Homo sapiens: one gene and its partner. The protein of the gene in region 1 purifies or fractionates together with the protein of each later gene. This does not show direct contact. Each region holds a gene or a part of one and is shown on either strand. Other genes may lie near its edges.

Region 1 (5,003 bases):
AGCTGTATGGTTTCAGATTCTCGTCTCCTTTTGTGTCATCTGTCACTCCGCATCTCCTGCTTCATGGCATGATGCGGTATTAGCTCTCACCTGCACTGCAGCTGGGTGCTTGCTGCCAAATAATTCGTGATCAGATCTCTCTATTAGCCTTTTGTTGCCAAAAATCCATCATACCTGTCACCTGAGATGGGAGGATCCATGACATCGTATACTACTGAAAATGTTCTGCGGTGTCAGAGATGAGAGAACCCAGGAGGGCAGGGGTCATGGCGATCTTGCCCTGTGCTCTCCACCAGCACCTGGCACAGAGTCTGGCATGGAGCAGACCCCGTGAGTGTTGCTGGGCAGATGGGTGGATGGATGAATGGGGTCAGGCTCCAGTGAGTGTTGCTGGGTTGATGTATGTATGGATGGATGGGGTGTGAGTGGGTAGGTGGAAAATCACACAGATGATGAGTGAATGAGATGAAAGGAATGAAGAGAGAAGTTGAAAGGCAGCCGAAGCCGTCAGGTGAGTACCTGCATCGCCTTTGTCACCCTTCGCTCCGTCTCGTCCATCTCTTCCAGGCAGACCATTGTGACCGGGGTTCCCAGGGATTCCAGGGTGCCCTTGCCTGCAGGTGTCCTGTGAGTTTATGTTCCCTGTGCAGATTTCAATGGCAAGCAGAAGCCACCAGATCCTCATGGTTCAGATGACAGACTCTGAACTGAAAGAGGGAAACAGAAACCCAAAGGAGAAATCTTTGTTGCTGGGGCCCTGGACACAGCCTCTGTTCCGTGCAGTGGGAAATGGATGAGCTGTCCCCTGCCCCAGACCCACACCTGCACAAACTTGGACAGAAGGCTCAGGGCAGGGGAGCAAGCTGATTATAACCAGAATGACACTGTCCTTGGAAGGTAACACTTGTGATTGGAACCACTCTTCAAGGTGAACGGGCAATTTAAAAAGCCAAGTTTAAGGTCAGGATACTCTTCCGTTCATCATTTCACTTTGAAGAAATCACTTTTCTGAACCAGAGATCAATGCTTACTTATCTCACAGGACTGTCGTACAGATCAAATTTTATCACGATATGCATAAAGGCACATTCCAAGTAGTGAAGCAAACATAGCATTACCATCTGATCCAGCAATTCCACTGCTGTGCATCTACACAAAATAATTGAAAGCAAGGACTGGAACAGATGTCCATGTTCGTAGTTGCATTATTTTCCATAGCAACCCAAGGGTCCCTCAGTGGATAAATAGATACATGCAATGTGGTAGGTCCATACAATGGAATATTCTTCAGCCTTAGAAAGAGAAGAAATTCTGACACATGTTACAACATGAATGGACCTCGAGAACATTATGCGAAGTGAAACCAGCTAGTCACAAAAAGACAGACCTGGATAATTTCACCTATAAGAGGTTCCTAGAGCCGTCAAACTCATATAAAGAAAAAGTAGGATGGAGGTTGCCAGAGGTGAAGAGAGAAGGAAATGGGAGTTGTTTGATGGGTACAGAGTTTCTGTTTGGGAAGATTTTAAAAGAGTTCTGGAGATGGGTGGTGGTGATGGTTGCACAACAAAGAGAACGTACATAATGCCACTGAATTGTGCCCTTAAGATGGTTAAGCTGGTTAGTTTTACGTTTTATGTTATATATTTTTTACCACATTAAACAATTAAATTAAATTTTTAAAAAAGTAAAGCATTCCAAGAAGTCTTACTGTAGTGAGAGGTGTTCTTTGAGTCAGGGTCTTGTTTTTCTAGGAGGCCACTGTGAAGAAGGGCCACACACACGGAAACATCACCTAGTTCGGGAGAAATGCATTTTCAAGTCCTTTCCTTATATATAATTTTTGGAGACAAGGTCTTGCTCCATCACGCAGGCTGAAGTACAGTCATGCAATCACAGCTCACTGTAGTCTCAACCTCCCAGCTCAAGCGATTCTCTTGCTTCAACCTCCCAAGTAGCTGGGACTACAGGCATGCACCACCACACCTGGGTTTGGTTTTGTTTTGTTTTGTTTTCGAGATGCAGTTTCGCCCTTGTGGCCCAAGCTGGAGTGCAATGGCCGATCTCTGCTCACTGCTGCCTCTGCCTCCCAGGTTCAAGCAATTCGGCTTCTCAAGTAGCTGGGACTACAGGCGCCACCACCACGCCTAGCTAATTTTTGTATTTTTAGTAGAGACGGGGTTTCACCATGCTGGCCAGGCTGGTCTCAAACTCTTGACCTCAGGTGATCTGCCTGTCTTGGCCTCCCAAAGTGCTGGGATTACAGGCATGAGCCATTGCCTATTTTTCTTTCTTTCTTTTTTTTTTTTTCTTTGGAGAGACTGGGTCTCACTCTGTTGCCCAGGCTGGTCTTGAAATCCTGAGCTCAAGTAATCCTCCCGCCAGTCTCCCAAAGTGCTAGTATTACAGGCTAAAGACCCTGTACCTGACTTTTAGGATTTAAAAAAATGAAGTAAAACAAAAACGTGGGCATAGTGCAACTGGTCAGAACCCAGATCCTCTCACAGTGCTGATAGCCATGTAAATCTGCACATCTTTCTGGAAAAGTTAAAGAGCAAAAGACATCTATGTCTTTCACCCTGTATTGCTATCCCTAAAATTCTTCCTAATGTTCCAAAACTGTGTGCCAATTGTGTGCCATTACCTGCAGCATTATCTATAACAGGTGAAAACGTGCATACTACATACTATGTAACAATAGGGGAAAGGTTTACTATGTGTAATAGTATGTAACTGCTGCAATAATTATGAAGGTCATGTAGAAATATGTAAATGATATACATTGTGCTGAATTTTGATAGTAGACTAAAATGCCATGCACATTATAAATGTACTTACGACTGTATGAATATTGACAAAAACTCAAAGTGAATATATGCAAATAAAGATGGTTGCTTTAGAATGGGGGGCAGTTATGGGAGCTTTTCATTTATAAAAAATGCTTTTTTATAGTGCCTACACAAATATTTCTAGAGATTTTGAAAACCAGCAAGACTCTCTGTCATCCAAAGACTGTATTGCCATCTGGTGGAAATGTCACAGGGAGCAGTCTAATGCAAATGGAGTATTTTTGGGAAAGGAAATGCAGATGCTTCCCTTCGAAGTCACAAATTCGCTCCATTCCAGGAAATTGAGTTGAGTTTTCTTGGAGCCAAATTCCATGAAGAATATACACGAGCCTCCTTTGCTAAACTCAGAAGTGGCCGGAAGCAGTCAAATCGAAATTCCATCAACCAAACTTTGTTGAGGGTTCTATAATTTTCATTTTAACTTTTCAAAATGTGGAGTACAACTATTCCAGGAATAAAATGATCAGAAGATCATAAAGGTGTCAGGTTAGGATAAACTCCAATTTGCTCTCCAGGGAAGAAGAAGCCAGCCTGGAAGCAAATGGTTACTCTTCTGTAATTATTTCACTAGTTTTGCATATTTGATGTAGGTAGAGTCTATCTAGCTTGTTTATACAGCATGTAGACAACCTTCAGCAAATGATTTTGATTAACTAATATGCGTTCTCCCAAATACGTAGCAAAGTAAGTTGTGCCACTATTTCTGTTTTATTTGTTTGTTTGTTTGTTTGTTTATAGAGATACAGTCTCATGAATGTTGCCCAGGCTGGACTCGAACTTCTAGGCTTAAGTGGTCCTCCTGCCTCAGCCTTCTGAATAGCTGGGATTAGAGACGTGGTCACCACCTAGGTTGGCACTATTTTTTTTTTCTTTTTTTTTTTTTTTGAGATAGAGTCTCGCTCTGTCGCCCAGGCTGGAGTGCAGTGGCGCGATCTTGGCTCACTGCAAGCTCTGCCTCCCGGGTTCGCACCATTCTCCTGCCTCAGCCTCCCGAGTAGCTGGGACTACAGGCACCCACTACCATGCCCGGGTAATTTTTTGTATTTTAGTAGAGACGGGGTTTCACCATGTTAGCCAGGATGGTCTCGATTTCCTGACCTTGTGATTCGCCCACCTCGGCCTCCCAAAGTGCTGGGATTACAGGTGTGAGTCACTGCACACGGCCGCTTGGCACTATTTTTTAATAAGAAATTTTAGCAAGTTTATACCTCCTATTTAGCCTCTTCTTTAATGTAGAAGGTTGAGGATTTGCACAAGGAATATAGAAGAAATTATATTAATGTTATTTTGAAAAATAAAAAATTACATTTGTGCCTCTCACAAAGCTATGGGTTGGACCCTCAGTTTCATTAGTTCAACTACAGTTACACTCTTGACTTTTAATTTCTGGGTCTGGTCTTTTCCCAGAAGGCACTAGAGCTAGGAGCCTCTTCTGTCTCCCATCTTTCCCTGCAATCATCCACTCTCTCTCTCATCTGAATTACTGTCCTCCCCAGTCCCCACTTACTCTGTACACCACACCTAGACTAATGATCACTTAGTAGGCACCAACCTGGGTTAGAGCTTTATGAAGATGGTGACTGCATTTTTCTACTTCCTTATTTTCAGTCAAGTATTTGTTGAATGAATCAATGCAGGCATGCAAGAAATACTATCCTGGTTCCAACTGTGTGTGGACCATCACTTGGGAAGGTGACTGGGTATCAACTCTGATCCTTGTCAGTGCTTTCGTGGAGTTGCTAGTAATCTCCAACACCCCTTCTCACCTTCATCCAGAGTAATAGAAATTTTAGCTGGGCTTCTAGGGGCCCATGATAGACTGCACTCCCTAGCCTCCCTTGCAGCCTGGGTATGACCATGAGCTAGATTACGGGCCATGGGGATGAGCAAAAGTGAGACGTGTAATTGTGTGCAATGACCGGCCTTAAAGGGTAAGGGGGTGCCCTTTCCCGCTTCCTGTGGGGGGGTGTGCATGGCATGGTGAACCATGTGGGACTCCTTGAAGGAGGGCAACAATTTGGGGATAGAAAAACCCCTGGCCTCAGATGACTCCACAGACCAGACCTGCCAGCACATCTTTGACATAAGCATATGAAACAGAAATAGACTTCTATCTTGCATAAGCCACTGTTATTTGGGGTCTTGACACACAGC
Region 2 (5,003 bases), on another chromosome or scaffold:
GGCAACCCTGCATTAATTCGAGCCATTTTTCCAATTGCATGTGCTCACTTTGTCTCTGGGTCACATTTTGGTAATTCTTGGAATATTTCAGACCTTTCCATTATTATTGTATCTGTTACGGTGATCTGTGATGAGTGATCTTTCATGGTTTTATTATAATTGTTTTGGGGTACCACAAACCACACCCAGAAAAGAAGGTCAACTTAATCGAAAAATGTTGTGTGTTCTGACTGCTCTGCCCTTCTCTCATCTCTCTCCCTCTCTGTGGGCCTCCATATTCCCTGAGACACATTTACATTGAAATTAGGCCAACTATTAACCCTACAATGGCTTGTAAGTGTTTAAGCAAAAGGAAGAGTCACACATCTTTCACTTTAAATCAAAAGCTAGAAACAATTAAGCTTAGTGAGGAAGGCATGTTGAAAGCTGAGGCAGGCTGAAAGTTAGACCATGTGCACCAGTTAGCCAAATTGTGAATGCAAAGGAAAAATTCTTGAAGGAAATTAAAAGTGCTACTTCTCTGAACATATAAATGATAAGAAAGCAAAAGAGGTTTATTGTTAATATGGAGAGAAAGTTCTTATGTTCTGGACAGAAGATCAAACTAGCCACAACATTCCCTTAAGCCAAAGCCTAATCAGTAAAAGGCCCTAATTTTTAATTCTTTGAAGGCTGAGAGAGGTGAAGAAGCTCCGGAAAAGTTGGAAGCTAGCAGTGGTTGGTTCATGAGGTTTAAGAAGCCACCTCTGTAACATAAAAGTGCAAGATGAAGCAGCGAGTGCTGATGTAGAAGCTGCAGCCAGTTATCCAGAAGATCTAGCTAAGATCATTGATGAAGGTGGCTACAGCAAACAACAGATTTTCAATGTAGATGAAACAACCTTCTAGTGGAAGAAGATGCCATGTAGGGCTTTAATAGCTAGAGAGGAGAAGTCAATGCCTGGCTTCAAAACTTCAAAGGACAGGCTTATTCTCTTGTTAGGGGCTAATGCAGCCAGTGACTTTAAGTTGAAGCCAATGCTCATTTACCATTCTGAAAATTCTAGGGCCCTCAGATTTACGCTAAATCTACTCTGCCTGTGCTCTGCAAATGGAACAACAAAGCCTGAATAACAGCACATCTGTTTATAGCATGGTTTACTGAATATTTTAAGCTCACCGTTGATAGCTACTGCTCAGAAAAAGATTCCTTTCAAACTGTTACTGCTCATTGACAATGCACCTGGTCACTCAAAAGCTCTGATGGAGATGTACAAGGAGATTAATGTTGTTTTCATGCCTGCTAACACAACATCCATTCTGCAGCCCATGGATCGGGGGTAATTCTGACTTCCAAGACTTATTATTTAAGAAATACATTTTGTAAGGCTATAGCTGCCATGGATAGTGATTCCTCTGATGGATCTCGGCAAAGTTAACTGAAAACCTTCTGTAAAGGATGCACCATTTTAGATGCCATTAAGAATATTTGTGATTCATGGGAGGAGGTCAAAATATCTACATTAACAGGAGTCTGGAAGAAGTTGATTCCAACCCTCATGGATGACGTGGAAGGGTTCAAGACTGCATCAGAGGAAGGAACTGCAGATGTGGTGGAAATAGCAAGAGAACTAGAAGCGGAGCTGGAAGATGGGACTGAATTGCTACAATCTCACGATAAAATGTAGATGGCTGAGGAGCTGGTTCTTACGGATAAGCAAAGAAAGTGGTTTCTTGGGATGGAATCTATTTCTGGTGAAGATGCCATGAATATTGTTGAAATCACAACACGGGATTCAGAATATTATAGGTACTTAGTAGAGTAAGCAGTGGTAGAGTTTGATAGGATTGACTCCAATTTTGAAAGAAGTTCTACTGTGGGTAAATGCTATCAAACAGGATTGCATGCTACAGAGAAATCTCTTGTGAAAGGAAGAGTCAACTGATGTGGCAAACTTCACTGCTGTCTTATTTGAAAAAACTGCCACAGCCACCCCAGCCTTCAGCAACACCACCCTAAGTCAGCCACCATCAATGTTGAGGCAAGATCCTCCACCAGCAAAAAGATTACAAGTTGTAAAGGCTCAGATGATTGTCAGCATTTTTTTAGCAATAAAGTATTTTAAAATTAAGATACGTATATATATTTTAAAACATAATGCTATTGCTCAGTTAATAGACTTCCATTAGATGATCATTATAATGTAAACCTAACTTTTATATGCACTGGGAAACCAAAAAATTCATGTGACTCACTTTATTATAATATTCACTTTATTGTGTGGTGGCCTGGAACCAGACCCACAATATCTCTGAGGCGTGCCTGTACTTAGTTTAAAACTGACTTTCATATGGTCTCTATTCAGACTGTTCATGAATGATGCTCCTCTATTTTAAAGACTATCAGAATCTGGCTGTGTGTGGTGGCTCATGCCTGCAATCCCAATATTTTGGGGGGCTGAGGTGTGGGGATCAGTTGAGGCCAGGAATTTGAGACCAGCCTGAGCAACACAGTGAAACCGCATCTCAATACAAAAAATTAGCCAGGCATGATGGCACATGCCTGTAGTCCCAGGTACTTGGGAGGCTGAGGCACAAGAATCGCTTGAACCTGGGAGGCTGAGGTTGCAGTGAGCTGAGATCACACCACAGCCCTCTAGCCTCAATGACACAGCGAGGGAAAAAAAAAAAAAAAGGAAAAAAGACAGAGCAAGAGTCTGTCTAAAAAAAGAAAGAAAGAAGCCAAACTTAAATGGTTAGCAGCAAATCTCTGGGTAGTTTTGAAGAAAAGACGGTTTAAGAAAGAGAAGTTATTTTGATGATAGTTCCTAAGAAGGAAGGTTTTGTTGTCATTGTTGTTGTTGTTGTTTTTAATATAGAGAAAAGGTCTCGCTGTGTTGCCCAGCCTTCTCTCAAACTAGCTCAAACTAGAATCAAAAACTAGCTCACTGAAGAACATTTTGGCAGTTTGGTCTTTATGTGTATGAAACACTGGTAAATAAATCATAGTATTTTGGCAACCTGATACTTTAGTGTTGAGAAATTTTGATGACATCTGATATAGTTGGTAAGTTTGTCCCCTCTAAGTCCCATGTTGAAATGTGATCACCAGTGTTCCAGGTGGGGCCTGGTGTGAGGTGTTTGGGTCATGAGGGTGGATCCCTTATGAATGGCTTGGTGCCCTCCCTGTGGCAGTGAGTGAGTTCTCACTCTATTACTTCATGCCAGAACTAGTTGTTTAAAAGAGACTGGTATCTCTCTCTTGCTTCCTGTCTTGCCATGTGACACACTTGCTCCCTTTTTCCTTCTGCCATGATTGTAAGCTTCCTGAGGCCTCATCAGAAGCAGATACTGGCACCATGCTTCTTGTACAGTCTGCAGTATCGTAAGCCAAAACAAACTTCTTTTCTTTATAAATTGCCCAGCTCAGATATTCCTTTATAGCAATGCAAAACAGACTAATACAACATCAGTGTAAAACGCAGAACCATGGGAGATCATAAAAATTAGCATTTCCCAATCATGTGGGAATATTAACCTTAATAAACAAAGACAAATATTTTAATTAAAGCTTTGTAATTAAAGAGTGTGTGTGAAATATATTACGAATATAATGTAATTATACACTTTCACATAAAACCCAATATTCTACCACTTGAATTTAGACATCTGGATCTCAGATTTTCTTGACATTGCAGTTAAGAAGAAAATAATATAGGTTTTTATTTTATTTTTTTAAAGGATGTATGTTATAAAGTGGCAACTGGTCATTTCACCAGAATTAGTATTTTAAATAAGGAGCAGCATTTAATATTTCCCAACTCGTAAAAAATAATTACTTTTTGTCAGCTGAAAAGGGGACAGGTGGGTGTGTAAATTAAGTGTTGTAGTTGTTGGCATATTAGCTGCCTACGTCTCTGTTGGAAATCAACAAGGCAGAAGAGCATGCCAGGGAAAAAGCCTGGGGAGAGGAGCAGACTGTGGCTAGTGAAGAGCAGATAGAAGCAGAGAGAACTAGGAGTAGCAGAAACGAATGAGAAGGGCAGGGATAGAGCCACCCCCACCCGCCCTTTGCAAGGTGTGCTCCAGGTGTGTGGCACGTGGCAAAGAGTCCTCACATTTACACTGCCCTTGAGAAATGCATTCTAAAAGCAGATGGAGTTTGTGCTGAATGTGTTCCAAGGCGCCCCCCCCGGCCCCCCTGCTTTAATCCCCTCTCACCTTGTCCCACACCTCCTCAGTGACATCCATTATGCTTCCAAAGAAAGGGTTGACAGCAGCATTGGAGACTAGGATATCGATACCTCCATGAAGCTTCACAGCCTAGAGAGAGGGGTAAGTTCTGGACCAGGGCTGCAGTAAGTAAGGGAGGTGCATTTACCCATGTTGATAAAAACTTCCTTCTGGGCAAGGAGCTGTGGCTCATGCCTGTAATCATGGCACTTTGGGAGGCCAAGGTGGGAGGCTCACTTGAGCTGAGGAGTTTGAGAGAAGCCTGGGCCATGCAGCGAGACCTTATCTTTATATTAAAAACAACAACAACAATGACAACAAAATCTTCCTACTTAGGAACTATCGTCAAAATAACTTCTATTTCTTAAAACATCTTTTTTGAAAACTACCCTAAGATCTGCCGCTAACCATTTAAGGTTGGCTTCTTTCTTTTTTAGACGGAGTCTTGCTCTGTCATCCAGACTGGAGCACAGTGGCATGTTCTCAGCTCACTGCAGCCTTGACCTACTGGGTTCAAGCCATCCTCTTGGCTCAGCCCCCCAAGTAGTTGGGACTACAAGTGCGTGCCACCACACCCGGGCAATTTTTGTATTTTTTATAGAGACAGGGTCTTGCCATGTTGCCCAGGCTGGTCTGGAACTCCTGGGCTCAAGCCATCCACCTGCCTCAGTATCCTAAAGTGTTACAGGCGCGACCCACCAGGAAGTTGGCCCTATTTCTTTTGCAGTGTTTTCTTCCCACCTCCTATTCTTCCAAGGCTGTCTCTGACGCTCTTTTCTTTACACTTCCCC

The links.
Region 2: the proteins of C1QTNF9 (region 1) and DHRS4 purify together in Homo sapiens (affinity purification with mass spectrometry; 3 studies listed by BioGRID and IntAct, with this or other methods). This does not show direct contact.

Annotation. Positions count from the first base shown.
Region 1 is NC_000013.11:24,311,686-24,316,688, reverse strand, and holds part of C1QTNF9 (complement C1q and tumor necrosis factor-related protein 9A precursor), read right to left. Parts: intron 1,796-5,003; exon of another isoform or gene 1,712-1,795; intron 708-1,711; 5' UTR 686-707; coding exon 520-685; intron 1-519. UniProt on the Homo sapiens protein: Probable adipokine. Activates AMPK, AKT, and p44/42 MAPK signaling pathways.
Region 2 is NC_000014.9:23,959,201-23,964,203, reverse strand, and holds part of DHRS4 (dehydrogenase/reductase SDR family member 4), read right to left. Parts: intron 4,303-5,003; coding exon 4,201-4,302; intron 1-4,200. UniProt on the Homo sapiens protein: NADPH-dependent oxidoreductase which catalyzes the reduction of a variety of compounds bearing carbonyl groups including ketosteroids, alpha-dicarbonyl compounds, aldehydes, aromatic ketones and quinones.